2 separate regions of the Homo sapiens genome follow, and region 2 is linked to region 1. The links come from fine-mapping of genetic effects on gene expression. Tissue or cell type: monocytes. Region 1 holds a variant in brackets; the other region holds the start of a gene. All regions are shown on one strand. Distances are between the middles of the regions.

Region 1 (8,195 bases):
TTTGTAACAGGAGGCAGTGTAGAATAAACACAGCAATGCATTTAATCACCAAAGATGCTACTTTTCATCTTGGCTGTGATATTTTGGCAAATGCTGGCAAATTTCAGGAGCCTGTGTCTATCTTTCTTAAAGGGAAATTAAAGCAAGTTCTCTACACAGGTCTCAGAAAAATAAATACAAGCTAAGAAAGATAAAGTTTTTAGCACCATGCCCCACTTCATGAGATTCTCAGTATACTTATTATTTGATTTGTCAAATCACTTATTTTCAAAAACACATGTGCCAACAGGAACATTAATCATTTTGGATCAAAATCCCAAATTGGCTCTTTTATTTAGAAAGAGTGCCCAGGGAATATCTAAAGTAATGCCTAACACTCCTGTTACACTCGATCTGTGTAAACAAAAGGGACACAGAACCTTGATCTTCTGCCATGTCCTAAAATTGAGAAAATTTTGACATTGGAAAATTACAATAATACACAATGTTTGAGCTAGGTTGTTCCCAAATCTTTCAGTTCCTCACAACATTTCTAATATCTGTTCCTTTTCTTCATCTCTGGAGATACAATCCCTGTTTCAGTATGATTCATTTCTCTTCTTAAGAAATACTGTGATCCCTCCCTTTTTGTCTCAATGCCTCTTACTTTTTCCCACTCTCATAACATGAAGAAACAACTGCCAAATTCATTTTGTTCCAACTATGTCATGTACTTCTTAAAATCATTTGCTCAGGCTTAGTTTCCTTCTTGTTTTCCACATTAGGTCAAATGCCTGCCTTTAGCTTAATATTTGTGTTTTTTTCTTTCCCACCTTTTATGCACTTTTTAGCTAACGTCTTGCTATTAGCATTTCTCACTAGTTAAATAAATGTGGCTTGACAAGTGCTTGGATTACTTTCATTTTATCCCTAGTGCCCTCAGACAAAAATGTGCACTGTGATCATAAACTAGGGACTCTAGTCATCAGAAGGTTATATTTAACAACACCTGAGGGTAGATATTCCATAAGATGAGCAAAAAGTTTTGTTGAGGACAGACAATTAAACCCAAATTCTTTCATGAGAACTACGTAGAATTTTTATAAAAGTTTCGTAAATATTTTAAATTGATTCCCATTAAGGAGTATAAAGTTAGTTCCTTATTGGGTGTTAATGGGTATATAAAGTTGTAATGTTACATTCTAAACATTTGCCTTACTACTTATACATGGTCATGCATAAAACAATAAAAACATTCATATCTTTAATAACACCCAGCTATCTTCCCTTACAATGGAAATTTGCTCCTACTGATTTTTTCTCATTAAAAGTTTATTAAGAGTAGCTGCTTTAATGTCGTATTTAACAGGTGTGATATTGTATTAGAGGAAGCAGAAGAAAAATGTAACATCCTTAGAGCAAATAACATAAACAAACAAGTCTACAAGGCCTGTGGATCTTTAATTAGGTTTATTTTTAACTATAGTAAGACCTCACAGTTCATGAAATTGGCTTTCTATGGTTTTTCTGATGATTTAGTTGCAAGGAAGAAATAGAGTGATGACCTTAATCAAAGTAGATATTTTAAGAGCAAACAGTCATATATTTCAATAGCCATTTTCCTTCCAAATTGAATTTAAGCTTTCCTTTTTAAGACTATAAGTACTAGACTCACAGCTAAGATATTACTTCCTCTCAGCTTTTTCTCATACTTTATATAGAATTTTTTATACAAAGCTATATGCCACTTCCCCTCAACCAGAAACTATATTGATTACATACTCAACCAATTCAGCATTTAGTAACAAAATTAGGAGAAGTTTATGAAACAAAAAATAAGGATCAAAAATATTTCTCATCAGATGTATCTAGATAATTGGTCAATGGTCATTTTTATTTTGAATCTCTGAATATGTATTTAAAATTCACAATCTGAAGCCATTCAATTTGTAGTTTGCTCATGATCTTGAGGTTGTTACATATGCAGATGTTATTTTTAAATTATCTGAATTTAGATATTTTATACGGAGGATTTAGAATTATATTACTAAATTGAGAGGAAAGTTTAATTTTTGCAAGATAAATAAATTTGTTGCCTTATAAATGCTTTTATTTTCAAAGCATATTTACATGAATATAAATTGTTTTCTTCAGATATGGTTACCATATATTTTTTAAATTGAGCTTGAAAGGGCTGAAGTTACTGAACTTCATCATAATGTAACTTTCAATACGAAGTTATTTCATTTTAATTATATAATTTTTGAACTATATAGTAGAGTGAAATTAACTGATAATTTTAATACCTCATTTAATTTTACCTAAACACATTGTTGGCTTTATATTTGCTCCTTCTTTTTTCCTACATGAAATGAGACAATAAAACTTTGAGTTTATTTTAAGTGACAGACTATAAGATACTTTAACAGGAACTCTGAAGTATCCTGTAAAGCTGCAGACATCCTGGAACACCTATTTTCTATAGAATGTTTGTAATTGGAGGAATTGAGGTTTTGTGTGTGTGTGTATGTGTGTGTGTGTGTGTTTTAATCCATTAGACTAGGAAATAACAAGAGAGAAGTAAGCCCTTTTTAAAGATTTAATATTGATTTGTATACATGGATATAGTGAAGAGAAAGTTGAGGAATTCTATATAAGTAGTAGAAAGTTAAACAATTATACCTCAGTACGTAGAAAATGAATTACCAGAAAATTGCTGTGAGATGCTCAGATTCCCTTTGGAAAAGCACTGAAAGAGCCAAAGAGCAATAGAGAGCTTGGGGAAGACCATTCAAAGCAAACCCACTCTGGGCAGATATAGATCGGGTCACAAGGATTTGGCTAACACATTCATAACCTAAAAGCAGGCTGCTCCAAGCCAGTGTGCTCACTCATCAGACATGGAAAAGTCCTCAACGTACTTGAGCTAGAGATGTATTTAAATGTTCTCATTTGTGCCCATTGACTGACAATGAAGAAAATTCACTCTTGTGCCTTACATTCCATTATGACCAATATTTTACTGTATAGGACCCACCTACCCCTGATCTCTAGCTTCAAACAGAGGGGAAGGAAGTCATTAAACTGCAAATTTATTCAGCAGAAGAGGATTCAAATATATAAAAATGGAGTGGTTACATTCCTAAATTTATTTTTCACAATATTCACCAGATTTATAATTATTTGTTCAACACTTTTCTTTCCTCTATGTAGTAAGCTCCATGAAGACAAATATCATGCTCCCTTTTTTAGAATGTAGCACAATTTCTGGCATATGGGAGTCACTCAGAAACAAAGGTTGCTGCTACTGCCCTGCTGCTGCTGCTGCTGATTTGTATTCTTCGTATCCTAACTTCTTTTCTTTTGTGTATCTTTCGCTTATCCTGTCACGAATTGTCTTCTCATTCTATTAATAAAGACATTAATATAAAACTCAATGTTGCACATGAAATCTT[G/A]TAAATGGGGGTCCAGATTACCTATTTGTTTGGCAACAATAAATACATATGAATTATAAAAGCTTTGAAGACAAAACATGCCATGAAAAATATTAATGGAATGTAAAGTACAATGTAATTGTAATACATTTCCTAATGTGAAGATGGTACACTTAATTTTTTAAATTAAGAAAATGAAGCTATATTATTCACTGATTAACATAACTTTTTTTAAAAAAGCTCTTCTCCAAGACCTATTTAATTGTGCTTCAAAAACAGTGTCTTCATTTCAATTAATGGGTTGTTCTTGTTCTTTCTGTTTTCCTTTTGATTGATAGGTTCAAGCAATTCTGAGAAGAAACTGGAATCAATACAAAATCCAATTTGGAAACAGCTTTTCCAACTCAGAAGCTCTTCGTAGTGCGTCTTACACAGTGTCAACAATCAGTGATGGTCCAGGTTATAGTCATGACTGTCCTAGTGAACACTTAAATGGAAAAAGCATCCATGATATTGAAAATGTTCTCTTAAAACCAGAAAATTTATATAATTGAAAATAGAAGGATGGTTGTCTCACTGTTTTGTGCTTCTCCTAACTCAAGGACTTGGACCCATGACTCTGTAGCCAGAAGACTTCAATATTAAATGACTTTTTGAATGTCATAAAGAAGAGCCTTCACATGAAATTAGTAGTGTGTTGATAAGAGTGTAACATCCAGCTCTATGTGGGAAAAAAGAAATCCTGGTTTGTAATGTTTGTCAGTAAATACTCCCACTATGCCTGATGTGACGCTACTAACCTGACATCACCAAGTGTGGAATTGGAGAAAAGCACAATCAACTTTTCTGAGCTGGTGTAAGCCAGTTCCAGCACACCATTGCATGAATTCACAAACAAATGGCTGTAAAACTAAACATACATGTTGGGCATGATTCTACCCTTATTGCCCCAAGAGACCTAGCTAAGGTCTATAAACATGAAGGGAAAATTAGCTTTTAGTTTTAAAACTCTTTATCCCATCTTGATTGGGGCAGTTGACTTTTTTTTTGCCCAGAGTGCCGTAGTCCTTTTTGTAACTACCCTCTCAAATGGACAATACCAGAAGTGAATTATCCCTGCTGGCTTTCTTTTCTCTATGAAAAGCAACTGAGTACAATTGTTATGATCTACTCATTTGCTGACACATCAGTTATATCTTGTGGCATATCCATTGTGGAAACTGGATGAACAGGATGTATAATATGCAATCCTACTTCTATATCATTAGGAAAACATCTTAGTTGATGCTACAAAACACCTTGTCAACCTCTTCCTGTCTTACCAAACAGTGGGAGGGAATTCCTAGCTGTAAATATAAATTTTGTCCCTTCCATTTCTACTGTATAAACAAATTAGCAATCATTTTATATAAAGAAAATCAATGAAGGATTTCTTATTTTCTTGGAATTTTGTAAAAAGAAATTGTGAAAAATGAGCTTGTAAATACTCCATTATTTTATTTTATAGTCTCAAATCAAATACATACAACCTATGTAATTTTTAAAGCAAATATATAATGCAACAATGTGTGTATGTTAATATCTGATACTGTATCTGGGCTGATTTTTTAAATAAAATAGAGTCTGGAATGCTATATTTGGTAAATATTTTAAAGACAACCAGATGCCAGCATCAGAAGTCTGTTTGAGAACTAAGAGAACAGAAACATCTATCATAAGATATATTTATTTTAAAAACACAAGGTCACTATTTTATTGAATATATTTGTTTTGATAACTCATACCTTAATAATAGGTGTGTTTGACATATTTCTTTTTTCATTTTGACAATGAACTCACATTCTAATCCAGAAATTTTAAACAACTACTGTGATAAATACCAATCTGCTACTTTTATAGATTTTACCCCATTAAAATATTACTTTACTGACTTTTACTATGTGAAGATATATAGCTTTGGAAATGTCCCAGGCTATTCAAGAAATATAAAAAACTAGAAGGATACTATATATACCATATACAATGCTTTAATATTTTAATAGAGCTACTGTATATAATACAAATTAGGGAAATACTTGAATATATCATTGAGAAAAAATTATTGTCAGATCTTACTGAATTATTGTCAGACTTTATTAAATAAAGATAGAAGAAAACCTTGCTAATGAATTAAAGTGAAATTTGCATGGGATTCAGTTTCTCTAATGTTATTTTCCGCTGAAATCTCTAAAGAACAAGAATGACTTCAATTAGTAAAAGTCAATTTTGGGAAAAGTCATGGGTATCTGTTTTTTAAGTGTGTCAATCTGATTAAAATGGATGAAACAAATTACTCATCATAAGTTGTTTCTTAAGCTGTCAATATGTCAATAGATGGTGAGTTCAGAACTTATTTCAAATTGCTAAGACAAATTATCTAAATTCGTAAGAATTAACATATAGAATGGTCTGGTCAGTACATTTATAATTTATCTATGCATGAAAAAGTATTGTTTTGTTTGAAACATGAATTTCATAGCAAGCTGCCATAGAAAGGAACGCAGGCTGTTCTAGACCTTCAACTGCCTAAATTATACAAAAATTCATTTTAATAAACTCAATTATTAGCTATTTATTATTCAAAGACCCATATTTAAATCCTTTGCTGACCATGTTGACATATATCAGCCTTCTTCTAGACAAACTGTCAACTCTCAACCATCTTGACAGTAGAAGTGACAGTAAAAAATGTTGAATGATCAGAGATTATATTAAAATAAACATGTAATTTTCAAGTATTTTTGTTGTGCTTTTATAATATTAATTCTAGATCAGATTTATTTTATAGCCAGGGTTTGTCTGTTGTAGAGTCTTGAGGCGTAGCAGTCATTCATGATTAATCACTGTTAGTTTTGTACCCATATATTTTTAGAATAGTTTTAAATGTTAGATTTCTCAAAAGCTAAATGCTACTTAATATCTTTGTATCATACTCATAAAGCAAAGTAAATCTGACACTTTTTTTAAAGCAAACTTCTTTGCTGTCAAAAAAATAAATTTGGGGAAATTTCTAGCTTTTAAAATGTAGATCTGCATTTTACTGTGATTACTTGTGAAAGTCATATTTTAATTTTCTAAATTCTAATTTGTCATTTTATTTCCTAAAGTTAATTTCCAATGCATTTATTCATAAAATATTCATTCTGGAATGCAGTGTTTGTTTAAATGTAATCCAATGTATATAGAATTAGTGGTGGCTGTAGTGCTGTATTTATTGCTTATAATTTTTTTTAAATGTGAACTTACTTTTAATTTTCTCTTGGTTTTAATCTGCTAGTAGAAACCACTAGTTATCTGTAAAAATATATTCAAGATATTCTGATCAATTATAACAATTTATGTTATGCCTAGAGTATATCTCTATTTTTTGATTGTATGAAAATATTAAAGTTATGAGTTAAAGTTTATTTTCACTGATATTTACTACAGTGCCAAATAATCTAATTTATAAACATAATTCTTACAGTAATCAATGGGATACTTCTCAAAATTAACAAATCTCTTAACAAAATATATCTTTTGCCCTCTTTAAAGTCTTCAGTAAACCAGTAAATGAATTCAATAAACCAATTAAGAAAAAGTCATGATTTGTTTTTCAAACTAAAAAAATCCAACTATACTACAATGGATGCAAACTCCTTCTTATGCTGAAAGAAGAAAAAGGATGTCTCAAAATAAGAAAATGTTCAGAAATTCATCTCCTTTATCTACTATATTTCATTTTGTAGTTTTGTTTAAATATTAGAAAGAAAAATAAGTATTTAAAGGTAATTTTTAAAGAGGGCATATTCATGGCTCTCACACAAATATAAAATGAAAATGTTTCAAAGATTTCGTTTAACTCATTAATTAATGAAGGAACAAGTAAGATGTTACAAAAATTCAAAGGAGAATTCAAAATATCACACTATATGAGAATATTAAAAATGTTGAAATAAATTTATAAATAAGTGCAAAACCACTCTATCCTTAGGGCAATAATCAGTTGCATTCCACTTAATAACTAATTTTTATTTTTATGATCAATAATAATGTACATCATTTTCTGTTTTCTGGAGAAAATGCCCATTTAAAACACTTGTGTTTTTTTCTTATAATCTCTCCTCCTTGTGATTATACTAATCTCAAAGAAAGAATATTCTTGATTAAAAATATTGCTAGTTTAATAAGGTTTGGCCTATTGTTGAGATAGGTACATGAGAGTGTTAATTACAATATAGACCTCCTCAAGTTGGTTTTACAAATCTAGAACCATAGTGCACTTTTTAACAGCTTCATTGAGATATACTTGACATATCATATAATACTTCATATTCAAAGCAGTTTTTAGTATATTAGTAGAGTATATTTTAATACATCCATAGAGACACGCTACCATCACCAATTTCATTACATTTTTATGACCTTGAGAAGAAACAGTGTATCCTTTAGCCATCACTTCTCTATCCCTCTATCTCTACTTTCATTTCAGCTATAAACATCACTAATTTACATTCTGTCTCAACAGATTTCCCTATTCTAGACTTTCATATGATTGTAATCATATAGTATGTGACCTTTTGTGACTAAATGATTTCACTTATGTTTTTAAAATTCATTCATGTTTTGGCATGTATCAATGTTTCCTTTTATTCCATTGGGTGAACATACCACATTTTATTTATTCATTTGTCTGTTGATGGATATGTTTGTTTTGCTTTTACCTTTTGGTTATTATAAATAATATACCTATAAACATTTGTT
Region 2 (8,195 bases), 100 kb before region 1:
GTTCGTTATAACTGGAAAGACATGAATACTATTTGGCATCTTTAGAACTTAATGATTAAATTATTTATGTAAAATATAGGGATTGGTCATTTAATCAAATACTACTTAAGTCGAAATGCCTAAATACAAATATAAATAAACCTTTTATTTTCACAATCAAGATTGATATTTAGCAAATAAGAGGCATTTCAGAATAAATCCACATTAAATGCATATCCAGAATTAAAAAGGGCATCTTTTTTGATGCTAACTAAAACCATCCTAGAAATAGTAAGAACTATTTTAAACTCTTCTGGAAAGAAGATTTGGGTTTCCCAAATAAATTACTCACACACTCTTAGTATTTATGTGCTACTTGTCATTGCTCTATTGATAAGTATGGCTAAGTTCACCATATACTGAATAATATTTTTTTCTTCAAACCAGAGCATTTTTGAGCCTGAAATTATGAATTGGGACTGCCCCAGAAAACTAGGACATATGATCACTCTATTGAAGGTATTTCCCCTCAGAAAGTTCATTGTGTACTCCCATTTAAAGTAAGCATTTATAATTTTGTTGGATTTAAAAATCCATTTGAATTAGTCCATGACATAGCTCACTAGCCAGTACTAGCACTTTATTCTAGCAATAGCCACCCCTCCAACACTCATGAATATCTGTAAGAAAATACTAAGTTCGCAGGAAGATCTAAATCCATCAGGATATAAGAATTTTTAAAATAGGCAAATGTTTGGCCAATTATTTTTTATGTTACTTGGCTTTCTTGAGAAAATACATTATTAAATACTGAAAGAAACTCTACATATAGGCTATAAAATAGTTTTATTTATCTGTATATTAACCTGGTATACATTTCTGTATATCTGACCTGATATATATACTGTTCATTTCAAACATAGTTTTCTGCACCTTCCAAATTCTTATTCATAGTAACTATTTTTAAAATAATATTGTAATCTTCTTTAAAATGATAGCTATGTGCCCAATTAAAGTGAAAAACGGCCCTTTGGTTTTAGTAATAGATAATAGCATATTCACTCTCATGTCCCAGACATTGTACCCAGATTCTTTTACTAAATGCAATTTATTTTTGTTTTGAAAAGCAACTTGAAAAGTGCTAACAGCAATTGCTAGGTAAAATAATAAAAGGTTGGGTCAACTTATTTCCTTGCTAGAAGTAGTTTTTTAATGTAAAGCTTTTAAACATATAAGCTTCTGATGTAAAGTTTATGTGTTTCTCCTCAAATTATTGGTGCATTTATCATAAGGCAAGTTATATATAATATTGCTGACTGCATAAATTATCACCAAGTATAAGTAATTGCTTTCAGACAATTAAGAACACAGAAGAATTATTAACATAAAATAATAACTTTTAAAACTTCAGAATAATTATTTTAAAAGTCTTTCTTTTGACTTGTTCTTGCACTCTCACTAGGGAAAGTCTGTCCTTAATATATTTCCTGTAAAAGTGTTCTGCTTTATTTTGTTTGTTCTTGTGGCAAGAATTATGCTCCAAGGCAGTATCCATACAAATTCAAAATAAGTGGTCAGTTTGGTCAGTAGAAAATTAAATTTGTCAAACCACATTTTGGTCTGGTTTAACTAACATATTCAATATAAACAGTAGCCCAGAAACTTGGAGTTAGCCTACTCCTAATTTTGAGTCAACTTGCATTTGACATAGTAACTAGTATCCCCTATTGGAAGAAAAGGTCGCTTGTGAGCCTTATGTGTGAGCACAAATAAAAGCACAAATCCTGCATGTAGGATGCTAAAATGAAAATGTGTGACTGTCCATCATTACATGTATATATTTCTACACTTATACACCACTCCTCACTTCTACAGAAAACCTTATTGCAGTGCTCTGCATCATTACCTCTAGATTCTATGTTAGCAGCATCAGTTGCTAATTTCACAGAATTTGGCCCTTGACTTCTCATGTGCTAGTCAATCTGTTCATTAAAGGACTAGATAGCAGGGAACATTCTATTTTTACTTATCTCACTAAAACACAGTTAGCACATTACCTAGCTCAAAATACAAATTTGGTCACTACTAATTAAATTATTGCAAGTGGCTTTAATGTCTTCTGAAGAAAGATTATAATATATAAATCCATATAATGCCACGTTGGCTCAAAATTGCTTCATTGATTATTGAAATGTTTTCATTTAGCTCTGCTACAGTTTTCCAAACATTTGCCTTCATGTTTCAGTAGGTATTAGAGAAGTTTTTATGATCTATCTTATCACTTGCTCCTACATAACTTAGAATACCCTGAATGCCTTCCTGGAAGTCCTTGTACCATTTATTTTTTCTGAAGTTTATAAAATGGCAGCTCTTGAGGATTACTAGGATGCAATTTTCCTGTTATGTCTAAATAAGAATTAAAGATGATATTAATAAAATTTATCAAGGAGTCTTCATGGACTACAGCCATGGGCCCATGTGTACGTCAACTTAAATATAAATGATACAACTTCTACTAGACACCCCATAAAGTATAGCACTTGATAGAGAGTAGAAGAGAAAGAGCATTGGATTAAGGGTCTTATGACATGAGCTCAAAACATGAATTTTTTTCCTTCAGTAGACCTTACTAGTATTGGGCAAATGAAATCAATGAATCTCACCAGGCGCAGGGGCTCATGTCTGTAATCCCAGCACTTTGGGAGACCAAGGTGGGCGGGTCACCTTAGGTCAGGAGTTTCAGACCAGTCTGGCCAACATAGTGAAACCCTGTCTCTACAAAAAAATACAAAATGTTAGCTGGGTGTGGTGGCGGGCGCCTGTAATCCCAGCTACTTGGGAGGTTGAGGCAGGAGAATTGCTTGAACCCGGGAGGTGGAGGTTGCAGTGAGCTGAGATTGCGTCATTGCACTCCAGCCTGTGCAACAAGAGCAAAAACTCCATCAAGAAAGAAAGAAGGAAGGAAGGAAGGAAGGAAAGAAAGAAAAATGAATCTTTGGAAAGACGAAAATATCAATGCTTTTATAAACATATTGGGAAAAGTTTTAGTTTTCCATGATTTAATTAAATTCAAAAACTATATATTAATCTCTTTATAGGATTCATATATTACACTTAGCATGGAAGATGAGAAGACATGACCCATTATTACTTTCATATTAAATCTAGTATTTGTTTTTCTCTGAATTTCAAGATGGGAACATGAAGCCTAAAAAGCTTTGTCAAGATCACACCAGACAGTATCAGAACCGGTTCACCAGTGTAACTCAGTTTCTTACAAGTCTTTTCTATTAACCATAATTATAGAGATGAAAGTATATCTATTTTTTATATGTCTGTATTTTGTAATCAATATTGATCTCACTGGTCTTAAAATCAAAGATTGTATAAACATTTTCTTCCACTAATTCAGACAATAAAAATGTCAACATGAGCACCCTGCTTTAAAAACATGATATTCCTGAATTTATTTTGCCTTTACCTCCTTTGTCTGCCTACAAGGTGTATGGCACCTCATTTTATCCTGGAATTGCACTAACAATTTACTAAGAGTTGAATGATCCTCACCGTATCTTATCTATTTCAAAATGTTATGAAATTTGTCGATTCAAAGCCTTAGACATAAAATCTATCTCTTCTAGTTTATAGATGAGAAAATTTATGCCCTGATAAATTAAGTGACTTTTAGTGCTGTTTAGGTTATAGGGATTATAATTATTGCTTCATATCGAACATTTACCAAATTATAAAAATGATAAAAGCATTTTAAATTTACATTTTCCCCTGATCATATCCAATGATGTATTAAACATATTCAGGAAAAACTATGCTTTGAGATGAAATTTTGTCTAAGAAATAAAGTATCCTTTGTATTTATATTATTTTATAATATTATGTTTACAACATCTATATTTTCTTTAAGATTATATTGACTTACAAATATTGTGGTATAAATTATTTTATATTATAAATAACATAATTATACCAAATATTTTTAAATGTGTGCAATAATTTTAAAATTATGAATTATTCAAAAGGCTATTTTGTCAAATATATATACTTATATATTATAAAAGAAACACTCTATACACACACATACACAACCTGAATTTATAACACATACACTCATGTTCTTATGAAGAAGGTAAAGGAAAAAATAAAAGATTTAAAAACTGCAGGATAAAGTTTCTTGATCTAATTAACTGATTAGGAACTGCACTTAGGAACTGATGGAGGAACAGCACCCAATTAGCAGAGCTCCAAATTAAGAAGAGCCAAATCACAAAACCAGTTATGATGAATACAGTTAATTTTTTTTTCTGTGTTGTGCTATGAACACAGATTTGTTAGATTTTTTTTCCTGGATACTTTGTAAGCTATAATTCAACACACACACACACACACACACACACACACACACACACACGCCTAACTCCTTTGATTCTTTGAGCAGAATACTATATTCAGATTTCCTTCAAATCACAAGTAGCTTGTTTGGCAAGTTCTAACAGAACTCAGTCAAGGTGAAAGCCAGCCAGCTTTTTACTGGTAACAATGTATTCACACAGCCTATGATCTCTCTCTGTTCAGGCTGCTTCTTGCTCTTGTCTCACAATAAGAAAGGAGTGCTGCTTTCCTGGGGTATGCTATTTGAGAAAGAAAGTAACCTAACACTAACTGCAGGCGGGGTCAGAGTGATGTAACAGGAAGCTCTGATGTTTCCCTTCTGCTGCTGATCACTTACAATCTGACAACACTTACAATCTACTCAGAACAACCTCTCTCTCTCCAGCAGAGAGTGTCACCTCCTGCTTTAGGACCATCAAGCTCTGCTAACTGAATCTCATCCTAATTGCAGGATCACATTGCAAAGCTTTCACTCTTTCCCACCTTGCTTGTGGGTAAATCTCTTCTGCGGAATCTCAGAAAGTAAAGTTCCATCCTGAGAATATTTCACAAAGAATTTCCTTAAGAGCTGGACTGGGTAAGTGCACATTCAAAATAAATATATTTATTCTAAGTAGTATTCTCATATAGTTTGGCAATGTTTCTATTATAGAATTTAGTAGATAGCACTGAAATAATGTTGAAACATAGTCTCACTTATTTCACATGCTAGAGAAAATACAGCCTACTACCCCAACATGAATACAAAATCTAATACTACTAGATAATATTGTTTACCATGGTATTCTAGAAAATAAATTTAGCAAGTATTAAAAATCTAAATGGATTAAAAGACATATTTCTGAACAAATACCTTAATCACAGAACAATGTCTTTTAAAATTAGCTCTAATATTAGCTAAGCTTGAATCTTGACAACTGGAAAACATTTCTCCCCCCGGAAGGGTCTTTAAACTTTCCATGTTATCAGCTGTAAGAAAGAGGTGAAAGAATAACTACTTAATGGGTCTCGGAGTCTCACTTACTCTGTGGTTGATCATAATGCAGAGTTTTGAAAAGTAATCACTTTGTATTTATTACATTTGCTTTTATTTGCCTTTCACCTTTATTTACACATATATCTGTAACTACTGAACTAATTTTTGTGTTCATTGTTGCCAGATGTGTTTAAATCTCTCTTCTGCTAACCCTGAACTGTTTGCTCTTTATTTGGATCATGGTGTCGGCTACAAAGAAAAAAAAAAACCTAGAGTTTAGGAAATGTAGATTTTTAAAACAATTCTTAATTTTGAAATCTTTAAGAGAATACTTCAACTTGACTGGTTCCCCTCTGCAAGCTTTTGGAGGGGGGTGTGATACCACGATATCTGTGGATAAAGAAACGTGACAGCTTTCCCAAAGAAGTATATTAGACGATTAAACAAAGAAATTAAAGTATTTATTAAAAAAGAATTTCCAGGATGGAACTTACTGAAATGTTGGATAAAACATCTGTTAATGCTCATTCCGATAGTACAGACTGTCCTGAACAATTTAAGAAACTAATGTCTGCTTAATAAATTGTTTGTGTAGATATATCACAAATTTGTTGCTGGAGAAAGTTTGATGTCAAATTTTAAATGATGTTGATAGATATGATTTTTAAGTTATATATTTTCTTACCTAAATGCAATTATACTTTCCAAGATGTCCTGCATTGGAAGCATCCTGTACTTAATCACTTATATCTGGCACATTAATAATAGACTACAAACATCCTGAGTAACTCCTCAGTAATTTACAACTCAATTTTTCCACAAATTCCTCAATATAATGAAAATTTAAATTAATTCTTAGATTTGTGATTCTTTAAGAGTATCATGGCTGATTTCTCTCTCTTTTCAATCTTCAGTTGTACTGAGTTCCCTGACACATGTGTAGAAATGGGAAAAGTGTTTTTAGAATGTGACTTTAGCCATTATATAAATGGGGGAGAAAGTGGAAACAACACATTTACTAACCCAATGACGTGGGTTAGTAACAAAAATTAAAACAACATTATTTTTAATTCAGATTATTTTCTTAGGAGGTATTATATTATGATCATATTTTATAATGAGAAACTCTCCAAACTTCCTTAATTTTTGTTTAATTGCTAGTCCCAAACCCATAATTTTCTTGTATAATTTGATTAAATTTTTATGAGTTTACTAACAGTATGGTTTATAATCTTTGTTTTCCAAAAATACTTTTGAAAAACACTAGGCGATGAACATTGAAGGTCATTAGCCAAAGGAAATATTTGAGGACATAACTGGAAGTTTGAAATAAAAATTCATATTATTGTATTCAAAATGTGCTTTCTTTAATGATAAGAAAATATCAGAATATCAATGCATGCTTTTAGCCATAAAGAAATGAATTTACTTTGCTAGAAGATGTTTCCTTGTAGCATCATAAAATCAATGCATTGAGCCTACAGTCAATGCTAAATATGTAAAATGAAACATAGAATTGAAATAGTATGTGAATAATGTGAGCTGAAATATGTTTTACCTGAAATATTCTATTTCTTAAAGAGATAATGTTTTTGATTATTGTTACAAGATTTTTTTTCTATCTTACATACCAAAGCATTATACTAAAAGTTAAAATATGTAGATTTTTATAATATATGAAACTGTTCATTCACTTTGAAAAATTGGAATAACAAAAACATTGTTTAAAATAATACTGGGTCTGTAATTTTAAAAATTATTTTAAATGAATGGGCAAGATTCATATGGTTTTCTCACTGGTGACTCCGAACATGTAATGAATTTTAAATGAAGACAATACTTAGCATATTTGTAAGAATATTTATGTTCACCTGCACATATTATACTATTTTTTCATGCATAACAGAAATAAAATTTCATAAAAAATTGAAAATAATATAAAGGTAAAATGATTACCTTGTTTGCTTTACAGATTAATGTGGACAAAGTATTTGATAAACACATAAACACTAACTGAATTTCAGTTAATAGCATCATTATATATTTCTAACTAGATCATATTTGGAAACATTGTAAAAATATTTTGCTACCAATTTTATCTACATGGCAAAAGTTTGATAGTAACTTAATTTTAAAAGATTGTTCTAGATCTTTATAGAAAAAATATAATAATCTTTAAAGGATCAAAAACTTATTCACTAAACAAAATTTATTTCATACTCTATATATGACTTTTAATACAGCTTTATCAAATAATTCTGGTTTTGGAGATATAATGATTACAGTATCGACTTTTCACAATACAAATATGTTCAAGAAATAGTATTTAAAATCTTTTGCTTTATTGCGTATCTTATGCTTGGCATTCAGAGAAGCTATTAAACCATAAACACAAGCGCTATCATTGCAAGGGTGTTAATGAAAGACGCTCTTATGAGAGTCAAGTGTGTAACGTATCTTAGTTTTGACTTAATCAGAATATTGGAGAATACGCTTAAGATAGACAAATGGTACACAGCTATTTAAAACATTTATCTGTATCTGGTTTTCAAATCCATGGGTAAACTATAAACATTCATAATTTCTCAGGTATGTTCTATTTTTCTGACAAAGTACATGTACCATACTGGATTACAAATTATTTCAAGACATCTTCTCGTTTAATATACAAAAATATTATGATGCAAATAGGTGGAAAATAAAAACTTACCAGAAATACAAGTCTACATTCTAACCAGATGGATCTATCCTTTTCCCATATATTCACATGGACCATGTAAATTAGATTAGGTCAATTAATCTCTGCATTTTTCCTTATTTGAATAATCTTAAA

The links. PIP is the estimated chance that this variant, and not a neighbour inherited with it, causes the effect.
Region 2: CALCRL starts here. The variant in region 1 is fine-mapped to the expression of CALCRL in monocytes (TOPMed, PIP 0.95).

What each region holds. Positions count from the first base shown.
Region 1 is chr2:187,341,956-187,350,150 of GRCh38, reverse strand. CALCRL (calcitonin receptor like receptor) reads left to right here. Exons shown (of 15, transcript NM_005795.6): 15 at 3,752-8,187. The coding sequence ends at 3,967. All of the region lies in intron 2 of CALCRL-AS1 (CALCRL and TFPI antisense RNA 1), which reads right to left. Among named protein-coding and RNA genes, the nearest start is that of CALCRL, 100 kb to the left of the region's middle. The variant G/A (reference allele first, on the strand shown) is at 3,435.
Region 2 is chr2:187,444,807-187,453,001 of GRCh38, reverse strand. It overlaps CALCRL (calcitonin receptor like receptor), which reads left to right and starts at 4,750. Exons shown (of 15, transcript NM_005795.6): 1 at 4,750-4,963. The region is part of intron 2 of CALCRL-AS1 (CALCRL and TFPI antisense RNA 1); the gene reads right to left.